3 linked regions of the Homo sapiens genome follow. The protein of the gene in region 2 interacts with the protein of the main gene of each other region in a pairwise test. Each region holds a gene or a part of one and is shown on either strand. Other genes may lie near its edges.

Region 1 (3,368 bases), on a different chromosome or scaffold from region 2:
TAAAAATACAAAATTAGCCAGGCGTGGTGGTGCATGCCTGTAATCCCAGCTACCTGGGAGGCTGAGGCAGGAGAATCACTTGAACCCGGGAGGCAGAGGTTGCCGTAAGCCAAGATCACGCCACTGTGCTCCAGCCTGGGCAACAAGAGTGAAACTCTGTCTCAAAAAAAAAAAAAAAGAAAGAAATTAAGAAACAAGCAGGGTGTAATGGAGCGTACATGTACCCCCAGCTACTCAGGGGAGGCTGAGGTGGGAGGATCATTCAATATATATATATATCATGCGGTCACCAAAATGTATATATTTATACAGTTATAACAGATAAAAGTAATGGTACGGCTGGGTGCGGTGGCTCATACCTATAATCCCAGCACTTTTGGAAGCCAAGGCAGGCAGATCACCTGAGGTCAGGAGTTGGAGACCAGCCTAGCCAACATGACGAAACCTAAAACCTAAAACCTCTACTAAAAATACAAAATTAGCCGGGCATGGTGGTGCATGCCTGTAATCCCAGCTACTCAGGAGGCTGAGGCAGAAGAGTAGCTTGAACCCCAGGAGGTGGAGGTTGCAGAGAGCCAAGATCACACCATTGCACTCCAGCCTGGGTGAACAAGAGTGAAACTCCATCTCAAAAAAAAAAAAAGCAATGTTACAAATGAGAAGTATACAAAACCATTTGTATAATATTGTTCCAACTGCATAAAACGAGACAAATTTAAATTACAGCACATGGAAATCAAAGGAAATATGCTAATGCCTTAGTTGTCTTTATGTGGTAAGATTCTGGGTGATTTTTTTTTCCTTCATATCTTTTGGTATTTTCCAAGATGAACATATATTACTTTTACAACTTAAATTTTTTAACTCAAAAATATATAAAATTTCAGAAAAACTAACATTGGGAATTTAAAAAAAAAAAAAGAAAAAGAAATATTATATAAAATGGAGTTAGACCCAAGGACCATGAAGATCTTTTCTGGATCTAAGAAGGGAGGTTCATTATGGAAAAACCCAGATAACTTTGATTGGCTCATAACATTCAAATGAAAACTCTTTCAAGACTCTCTAATCCTCATATTTGAGAAATTTCACTAAGGATAATAACTTCTATTAAAAAGCTGTTTTTGGGCCGGACGCGGTGGCTCACGCCTGTAATCCCAGCACTTTGGGAGCCGAGGCAAGAGGATCACAAGGTCAGGAGATCGAGACCAGCCTGGCAACATGGTGAAACCCCATCTCTACTAAAAATACAAAATAATTAGCTGGGCGTGGTGGCGCGCGCCTGCAGTCCCAGCTACTCAGGAGGCTGAGGCAGGAGAATTGCTTGAACCCAGGAGGCAGAGGCTGAAGTGAGCCAAGATCACACCACTGCACACCAGCCTGGTTAGAGACTTCGTCTCAAAAAAAAAAAAAAAAAAAAAAAAGCTGTTTTTCACTCTGGCTGCTACATGCACTAAAAATTTCCTAATTTTTAAGGACTAGATAAGACCACATTCTAAAAGTTCAAGATTTTTTTAAATTTTCATATTGAACACACGCTCTCCATAGATTTGCATCCCACTGAATCTGATAATTGGCTCTAATACGAACAACTGAGGTTTTGTTCAGATCCATGGCTTCCTTACGCCCACCTCTGCATGGTCACCACCAGAACTGGCAATGGCTTTGGTTTTCTAGGCCCATTTTTCACCTAAAAACGATGCTGGCTTTTGGGAAGCTGCTGCTACACATTCAACAATAAGTGGGGGGCCGGCCGCAGTGGCTCATGCCTGTAATCCCAGCACTTCAAGAGGCCGAGGCGGGTGGATCACGAGGTCAGGAGATCAAGACCATCCTGGCTAACATGGTGAAATCCCATCTCTACTAAAAATACAAAAAATTAGCCGGGCATGGTGGCAGGTGCCTGTAGTCCCAGCTACTCAGGAGGCTGAGGCAGGAGAATGGCAGAATGGCATGAACCGTGGAGGCGGAGCTTGCAGTTAGCCGAGATCAGGCCACTGCACTCCAGCCTGGGCAACAGAGCGAGACTCCGTAACAACAACAACAAAAAAAACAGTAAGTTGGGGAGGCTCAGCCACAGGCCCCAGGGCTCCTGATCCCTCATTTGTGTCTCATTCATTTTTGTTTCAGATAAATGAAGATTATTAAATATTATTATGAAATACTATTAGTCTTTGAGATCACACACAAATATTTGAATCCTCCAATATAAAAAATTTGCTAGTCATGGACTGTTTAAGAATCATTTCTCACAACCTCTAATTTAGTTGCTTTTAATCATTTTCTAAAAGACTTTTATTTGGAAAGAACAGTTAAAATACTTTACTTTTTTATTATAAAATTAATCGTGAACACTTTTCTTGGTAAAAACTCAAATACAGAGGATAGGCAGGATGTCTCCCTGCCCCCAGTTTTACTTCCCGACCCAAAGGAAACCTGGTAACTGGCTGTCATCCTCCCAGAAGTTTTTCTATGCCTTTATTTATTAATGTACACTTGTAAAACAGCATTTGGGTTTGCTGTTATACTAATGGCGTTATAACATACATACATTGCAGCTCTTTTTTCATTTAACTGAGCCTCAGAAATCCTTTCCATATATACATGTAGATCTAGGCCATTCTTTTTAAAGCTGAGTAATGTTTCATAGTGTGGGCATAATACCTACACTTGTGTATTTCCAGTAAGCTTTTACAGATACTACTACCTTTTTTCTTTAAAATTAAAGTATAATATAATAAAAATACCAGGAATTTGGAATTGATGCTGTCAAAATAGACTGGATTCTTTCTTAAGATTATTATGTAGCTATAATTTTGTAAAGACCTTTAATAAGATCTTATATGATCTATTTCTAAAGACCTGGACATTTAAGTTAGTCCCTTTTCTAATGACAATGCTACAGTGTATAGCCTTATATTTACATGTCTATGTACATGCACAAATATTTTATAAGCTAGGTAGGCAGACAGAATTTACCAAATATCTATTGCCATCATTACCCTCCAAAGTCTGTGCTAGCATGCACTTTCACCAGCAGCGCATGATAGAATCTTAGGAATACACCCTTAGTCACACCAGATTATTACCACTGTTTGTAATTTGTGCCAATCAATGGATGAAAATACCTTACTCTTCTAATTTGTATTTCCCTGATTACTAATAAGGCTAGGCATTTGTCATCTTTTTAGGCATTTCTGTATTTCTGCTGTCAAAAGTCTGTTCACTGTCCTTTATCCAATTTTCTATAGGGTTGTCTGCCTTGTGCTTATTAATTACTGGGAGCTCTTTATATATACTTGACCCTTGAACAACACGGGTTTGAACTGCGCAGTTCCACTTACACACAGATTTTCTTCTGCCTTTAC
Region 2 (3,758 bases):
TAGAAGCTAGTTAAAGTAGAAGAACTCAGACTGTAAAATGTGCTTTCTGCTTGTATGGACATAAGTATTTAAAGTTTTCCTGTGAATTATACGACATCATGGCCCAAGTCTTTATAGCCTTCACTCTAGAGATAATAATGAATCTTTTTTACAGTCTCTTACAAAAGCTTTATTATGGAGAGTTGACAGCTATTCAGCGTACCTAGATAACACATTCATCCTGTAATAATCTCATATTTAAATAGGGAAAAACTTTCCTTGCAGCCTAGAAAAATATAAGCAGAGACATTTTTGAATGAGGAGAAAAATTCACCTTGTTTGTATTTTATTTTGCACAAAATCTGTAGGCTTCGTAACTGCTTTGTTATACAGAGATATCATTAGGACCCACACCAGGCATCAGCAACAGCAAAATTCTCATATTTCTAGGGTTTTTAAGGAGTGCTCTCAGCTTCCTCAGTAACAGATGTAAGATCATTTTGTCTTCGAAACTGGAAAAAAAGTAACCTCTTACAAATCATATCATGTTTCTTAATATTATACAACTAATAAATAGATCTTTTTCTTAAAAAATACAGGTAATACTGATATTTATAGAGTGAAATCTTAAAGTATCCTATTTCTGTCCCATTCCTATTTCAACCTTATTTCTTTCTTCCTTTCTTTCTCTTTCTCTTTCTTTCTTTCTTCCCTTCCTCCCTTCCTCCCTTTCTTCTTTCTTTCTCTTTCTTTCTTTCCTTTTTCTTTCTTTCTTTCTCTTTTTCTTTCTCCTTCCTTCCTTCCTTTCTTTCTTTCCTTCCTCCCTTCCTCCCTTTCTTCCCTTTCTTCTTTCTTTCTCTCTCTCTCTTTTTCCTTCCTACATTCCTTCCTTCCTTGGGTTTTTTTTTTTTTTCAAGGTCTTGTTCTGTTTTCAAGGTCATGTCGCCCAGGCTGGAGTGCAGTGGTGCGATCTCGGCTCACTGCAACCACCTCTCTTTCAGGTTCAGACTCAAGAGATTCTCATGCCCCAGCCACCCGAGTAGTTAGGATTACAGGCCTGTGCCACCATGCCTGGCTAATTTTTTTGTATTTTTAGTAGAGACGGGGTTTCACCATGTTGACCAAGCTGATCTTGAACTCCTGGCCTCAAGTGATCCTCCTGCTTCAGACTCCCAAAGTGTTATGATTACAGGTGTGAGCCACCATGCCCAGCCTTCAACCTACTTTCTTAATTTCTGTTGGATCACTTGTATCTTTTGGTGTACCTTCAAACTTTTATAATAAAAATAACCATAGTCTTCTTGAACATAAATCTTAATAGATGCCAGCACCCTAGCCTCTCATGACATTTCTCAACCATTACCTATTCCTTCCCTTCAAGGTAATGGTCATTTTGACTTTTAGATAAGGTCAATTTTTTTTCTAGTTTCATGAACTAAGCTTCATCCCTAAACACTATAGGTTAGCTTTAGTTTTACCTGGTTTCAAACTTCATATGAATGGATTTTTTTACAAGTATGCATTCTTTTGAGTTTTTATACTCAACATTTTATTTGTAAGATCCATCCATGATGTTAAGTGCAGGTATAGTTGCTTTTAATCACCATGTCAAATTTGAATGAAGTAATACACCTCAACTTATTCATCACTCACCCACCTGTGTTGTTTCCACTTTGGGACTACTATGAATAATACTGCTCTCTATATATTCCTGGAAGTTTATCTTAATGCATAAGCGCAAACATTTCTGTTGGTTATATACCAAAGACTTAAATTACTGATCATAGGGTATGCACATTTTAATTTTTAGTAGGTAATGCCCAAAAGGTTTTAAAAATTGTTGCAATAACTTATATTTCAACTAGGAGTTTGAGAGATATTTCTTTTATCTACAATCTTTGCTATCAGTTGGCATTGTCAATAGTTTGAAATTCAGTCATTCCAGTAGGTACTTTAAAATATCTCTGTCATTTTAATGTTATTATTACAATGAATAGATTTATATCTGACATTTTATTATTTGTTTTATACACGTCTCATGTGTTTTCTTTTCCTTTCCTTTTTTTTTTTTTTTGTGAGATAGGGTTTTACTCTGTCACCCACACTGGGGTACGGTGGCCTGAATATGGCTCATTGCAGCCTTGACCTCCTGGGTTCCAAGTGATCCTCCCACCTCAGCTGCCTAAGTAGCTGGGACCACAGGCATGTGGCACTATGCATAGCTAGTGTTTTTATTTTTACTTTTTTGTAGAGATGAGGTCTCGTCATGTTGCCCAGGCTGGTCTTGAACTCCTGGGCTCATATGGTCTTCCCGAGTTGGCCTCCCAAAATGCTGGGAATATGGGTGTTAACCAACCAAGCCTGGCCATTGTGTTCTTTCTTTATTTTTTAAAAATTAAACATACTTTGTGTATGTTAATTCCCTTGTTTTTAAGCTATTATATTTTTAGCTTGCTTAATCACTAAATAAGCACCCTAATTTATCACAGTCTACTTCAGATGAATGCTAATTCAATTCCAGTAAAATACAGCAACTTTATTCCCATATAACTCATTCCCTTTCCTTTTCTTTGTGCTATTATTGTCATCTATTCTATCTATATATATTATGTAACTACCAATATGGTGTTATAATTACTGCTTTTATAATCTTATCTTTTAAAATTTAAGAGAAAAATTGAGAAACTGTCTATTGAAGAAGGGTTGGCAAGCTATGATACATGGACCAAATCTAGCCCACTCCCGTTTTTGCAAATAAAGTTTTGCTGGAACAAGCCATATCCATTCCTTTATGTATTGTCTATGAATACTTTCATGCTAAAAGGTGGAGCTGAGTAGTTATGACAGATGGAATTAATGTTACTAATAACACGACCTTAAATTAAGGTAATCATCCTGGATTACCTGGGTGAGCCCAATGCAATTAATGCTACTGTCTTTTAAATCAGTTAACAGAAGAAAACACAAAAGATGTATTTATACTGATTTTCATAACCACCTACATAATTACTTTTACTGGCACTTTTTTTATTTATTCATGTGCATTTGAGTTTCATCTGATGTCACTTCAGTCTAAAGAACTTCCTTTAGTGTTTCTCATGAGGAATTTCTGCTAGCAACACATTATTCATCTGTGTATGTCTGTATTTCACCTTCATTTTTGAGGGATAGTTTTAAAGGATAAAGAATTCCTGCCTGACTGTTTTTCCCCCTGCACTTTAATATCCCATTCCACTACCTTCAGGCCTCCATTGTTTTGGATGAGAACCCAGCTGTTTATATTATTGTGGTTCCCTTATATATGAAGAGTCTTGTTTTTATTTTTTTTTGCTGCTTTCAAGATTTTCTTTTTTATCAGTTTGACATGGAGGTGTCTAGGAGGATCTCTTTGTGTTTATTTTACTTGAAGATCCTTGAGCTTTTTGGATGTATTGAATGTTTTCCATGAAATTAGGGGAATTTGGGAGCCATTATTTCTTTAATTTTTTTTCTGGTACTCCCCATTTTTATGGGACTCCCATTATACATGTGATGGTATCTCAAAGGATTTTGAGGTTCTGTACAGTTTTCTTCATTTTCTTTTTTTCCTGTTCTTCGGACTGGGCAATATCTTTTTTGCTCTCTTTATGTCTGTTTATTTTGTTTTTTGTCAGCTCACCTCTGTTCTTGAGTTCCTCTAGTGGTTTTTCATTTCAGTTCTTGTATTTTTAAACTCTAGAACCTCCATTGGGTTTTTCATAATTTCTGTCTCTTTTATTGACTTTTATTTGATGAATCAT
Region 3 (3,658 bases), on a different chromosome or scaffold from region 2:
TCTTCATAAGTTGAGGATGTACACCACCTCAGGACCACTGTGATAATTGTGTTAACTGTACAAATTGATTGTAAAACATGTGGTTTGAACAATATGAAATCAGTGCACATTGAAAAAGAGCAGAATAACAGAGATTTTTAGGGAACAAGGGAAGACAACCATAAGGTCTGACTGCCTGTGGGGTTGGGCAAAAAGAGCCATATTTTTCTTCTTGCAGAGAGCCTATAAATGGATATGCAAGTAGGAGAGACCTGAGGGAGAGTCATGTTTGCTAAGAAAGGTCATGGTATATGGCACCATGTAAAAATCTTCAGAATGAAGGCAGCTACAGTCACAGAAGCAGCTCTGCCATGTAGGCCTAGATGCACATGTAAGACCTCAGATGGACATGGGCCTTGAACAATAAAGCTAATCATGGAGAGTTGAGAAGAAAATTTAACTTCCCCCAGTGAATGGTACAGACATTCCCTCATTTTACTCCATTAGAATTCTGGACCTCTTCTGTATTTCTTTCTGGGCCCTGCTACCTCCTAATCTGCATCTGGTGCTGGGAACCCAATAAGCCCAGCACAATGCCAGTGTGAGGCATTCTGAGATCCGGGATTGGGTTGTGAGACTCCTGACTGAATTACTAGCCTTCTGAGCAAGGCTACCTCTTTAGACCCTTCTCCAGTATAAGCTGCATAAGCTCTGGCTCATTCCACAAACTCCTGCACCTAATCATGTTCCTGGACCTCAGACTGTACTTTCCTGCTCATCCTGCCTTGTTCTATCTCTTTATCATCCCTCCTACTATAGCCCTGAGTGGCACCATCCAAGAGCACCATGGTTTCTCTCCTCCTCAAGCCCTTTTACACTTGTAACAGACCACATGTCCAACCTGGCCATAAAACAAAACTGAGTTCCTGGATCCACCCAGTCCATAAGCTCCAGCTGTTACCAGACCAGACCATAGTAACCACACAACTTTAATCTGAGGTATGGGAGAAACACACCTTTCATTTGGATAGCTCCATGACAACCTCAAGACATTGAATGAAAATGGCATTAAAAGACTGAAGAAAAAAATCTAAACAAAGATCTGTGCAAGAACAAATTGGTCTGGATATTAGTAAACTAACAGGGAAATTCTGCACTAAAACAGCCACATGGAACCCCAAAGTGATCATGGAAAATGAGCGTGAGCTTGAGCATGAGGCAAGGTGTTTCTGATTTTCCGACCTCCTTGGTTTGGGGAATTATTCCTTACCGTCCAGCAGTGCCTTCAAAAGCATACTCCCAGCCATCAAGGGTGCGGCAATATGGCCCTTGGACAAGACCCAAGGCAGAGATGACCAGGCAGTATCCAGAAAAAGCAATTCCGAGGGAAGAAAAGATAATTGACAGCAGTGTCTAAATTAAAACATAGAAGCAGGTTAGTACCATAGAATGCGACAAGGGGATATTGTGGATAAATTATCAGATAGCTACATTCCCCTATTCACCCAAGCTCATGCAGTCTATACAATACTAAATGCCCACATAGAAATAAAAAAAAAAGTAATCCAAACCTATTTGATCTTAAAAATAAGCTTTTAAATAACGTTTAGTTTGGCATCACATAGAGGTAACTAGGTAATTTACTAAATTTATTCTTTCCTTGTGGAATTTTGATATCAAAATAATGATCTCCTCTTATGAAAATGCAGTGAAGGATGTGATCAATCAACCCATAACTATCTATTGAAGACCTGTTATTTTCTAGGTAGAGTGGGTTCTCTAAGAATTATAAGCTATGACCTCTGCTTTCCTCTTATAAAGATATTAAAATATCTTTACAACAATATAAAGGAAAATGTCAGGTATAGTATTGAAATTTATATTCATATTCAAGTGACGATAGGATTGATGGAGAGGGGGGTGTTTTCATTTGAGTAGAGAGAATGGGTGTTATTCACAGGCAGATCAGTGCAACCAGAGTTGTGAGAAAGTAGGTTTAATCTAAGAGGGGTTTATTCAGATGAGTGAGGAGAAAGGCTCTGAAGACAGATTGACATGGTACTAATGCTGGGAAAACAAGGTTGATAGGGCACAATTCAGCCCTTGAGTAGCTTAAAAAGTGAGTACAGCTTGGTAGATCCAGGCCAGAGCTGGCCTTGAATGCCAGGTTAAGAAATCTGGACTTTATCCTTCAGGGCAAGGGACTTCCCTCCTCCCAACCTTAAAAAATGTCAAATCTACAAAAAAGTTGAAAGTATAGCACAATAAACCCCTACATATCCTTTATCTAGAATCACCTACATGAATATTTTACCATATTTGTTTGTGCTTTCTCTCTTTCTCTGTGTGTATGTGTGTATATATTCATGCAAAGTATATATGTACACCTGTACATATATACAAATATGTATTTATTATGTGTTTTTGTTACTGAGCCATTAGGTTGCAGACATTATGATATTTCACCCCTAAATATTTCAGCATACACCTCCTAAGAATAAAAACATTCTATTATTTTGTAACTTTTAAATTTTTTTTGTACAGGATCCAATAAAGGTTTATGTACAAGACTACATCTCTTTAGTTTCCTTTAATTTACACTAGTCTTTCTGCCTTTTTGTTTTTTGGGGTGTTAAACTGTTTTTAAGAATCCCTGACAGTTGTCTTGTAGATGTCTCACATTCTGGGCTTTTCTGATTATTTTCTCACAATTGAATTCAAACATTTTAGCGAGAATACTTAATGGGTGTGGTGTACATTGTGGGCCTTTCATGCTAAGGGTGGTGCTAAGTTTGATCTCTTGGTTAAGAGTATCCTTCAGATCTCTTCCCTGGATAGGTACATTTTCCTCTTGGCAATTAGTAAATAACTGCCAAGGTGATGCTTTGAGACAGTGTCATATTCTGTTTCTTAATAACATTTCAACTGATGGATTTAGCATCCACTGATGATCCTCATATTCATTGATTACCAGCAATCACTGTGGTTCCAATGTGCTGCTTTCATAATGCTATAATTTATCTGCATTTATGTTATCATTTTTCTGCACAGAACAACTTCCATTTCCCATTCCTCTCTCCTTTGCCTCTGTCTATATTTTCTGGACTCACAGATCTTCTAATTCATTGTGCTATAATCCATAAATGCGATTATTCTTTTAGATGCACAGATGGTCCAAATTCGGCCAATGTGAACATCCCTGTAGGTCAACTCCTATGCCCTTTGACATACTCATGTCATTCTTTGAACATTTTCTTGCTTTCTGGCACAAGATGTTCCAGGTTCATTTTGAGCTTACCCTGCCATAGACCTGGAAGAAGCTGGGGTTTTGTTGTTGTTGTTGTTTTGTTGTTGTTTTTGAGTTGTAGTCTCACTCTGTCACCCAGGCGGGAGTGCAGGGCCTGATCATGGCTCACTGCAACCTCCACCTCCTGGGTTCAAACGATTCTCCTGCCTCAGCCTCCTGAGTAGCTGGGACTACAGGCACGTGCCGCCACGCCTAGCTCATTTTTGTATTTTTAGTAGATATGGGGTTTCACCATGTTGGCCAGGCTGCTCTCAAACTCCTGACCTCAGGGGATCCACCTGCCTTGGCCTCCCAAAGTGCTGGGATTACAGGCATGAGCCGCTGTGTCCGGCCAGAAACTATTTTTTAAACAAGTCTTGTAATTGGTTTTTG

What was found.
Region 1: the proteins of MS4A13 (region 2) and POMK interact in binary tests that used the Homo sapiens proteins (3 or more experiments, as listed by UniProt).
Region 3: the proteins of MS4A13 (region 2) and TM4SF18 interact in binary tests that used the Homo sapiens proteins (3 or more experiments, as listed by UniProt).

Annotation. Positions count from the first base shown.
Region 1 is NC_000008.11:43,117,490-43,120,857, reverse strand, and holds part of POMK (protein O-mannose kinase), read right to left. Parts: intron 1-3,368. UniProt on the Homo sapiens protein: Protein O-mannose kinase that specifically mediates phosphorylation at the 6-position of an O-mannose of the trisaccharide (N-acetylgalactosamine (GalNAc)-beta-1,3-N-acetylglucosamine (GlcNAc)-beta-1,4-mannose) to generate phosphorylated O-mannosyl trisaccharide (N-acetylgalactosamine-beta-1,3-N-acetylglucosamine-beta-1,4-(phosphate-6-)mannose).
Region 2 is NC_000011.10:60,539,252-60,543,009, reverse strand, and holds the end of MS4A13 (membrane-spanning 4-domains subfamily A member 13), read right to left. Parts: intron 492-3,758; coding exon 435-491; 3' UTR 289-434; downstream 1-288. UniProt on the Homo sapiens protein: May be involved in signal transduction as a component of a multimeric receptor complex.
Region 3 is NC_000003.12:149,323,631-149,327,288, forward strand, and holds part of TM4SF18 (transmembrane 4 L6 family member 18), read right to left. Parts: intron 1,393-3,658; coding exon 1,250-1,392; intron 1-1,249.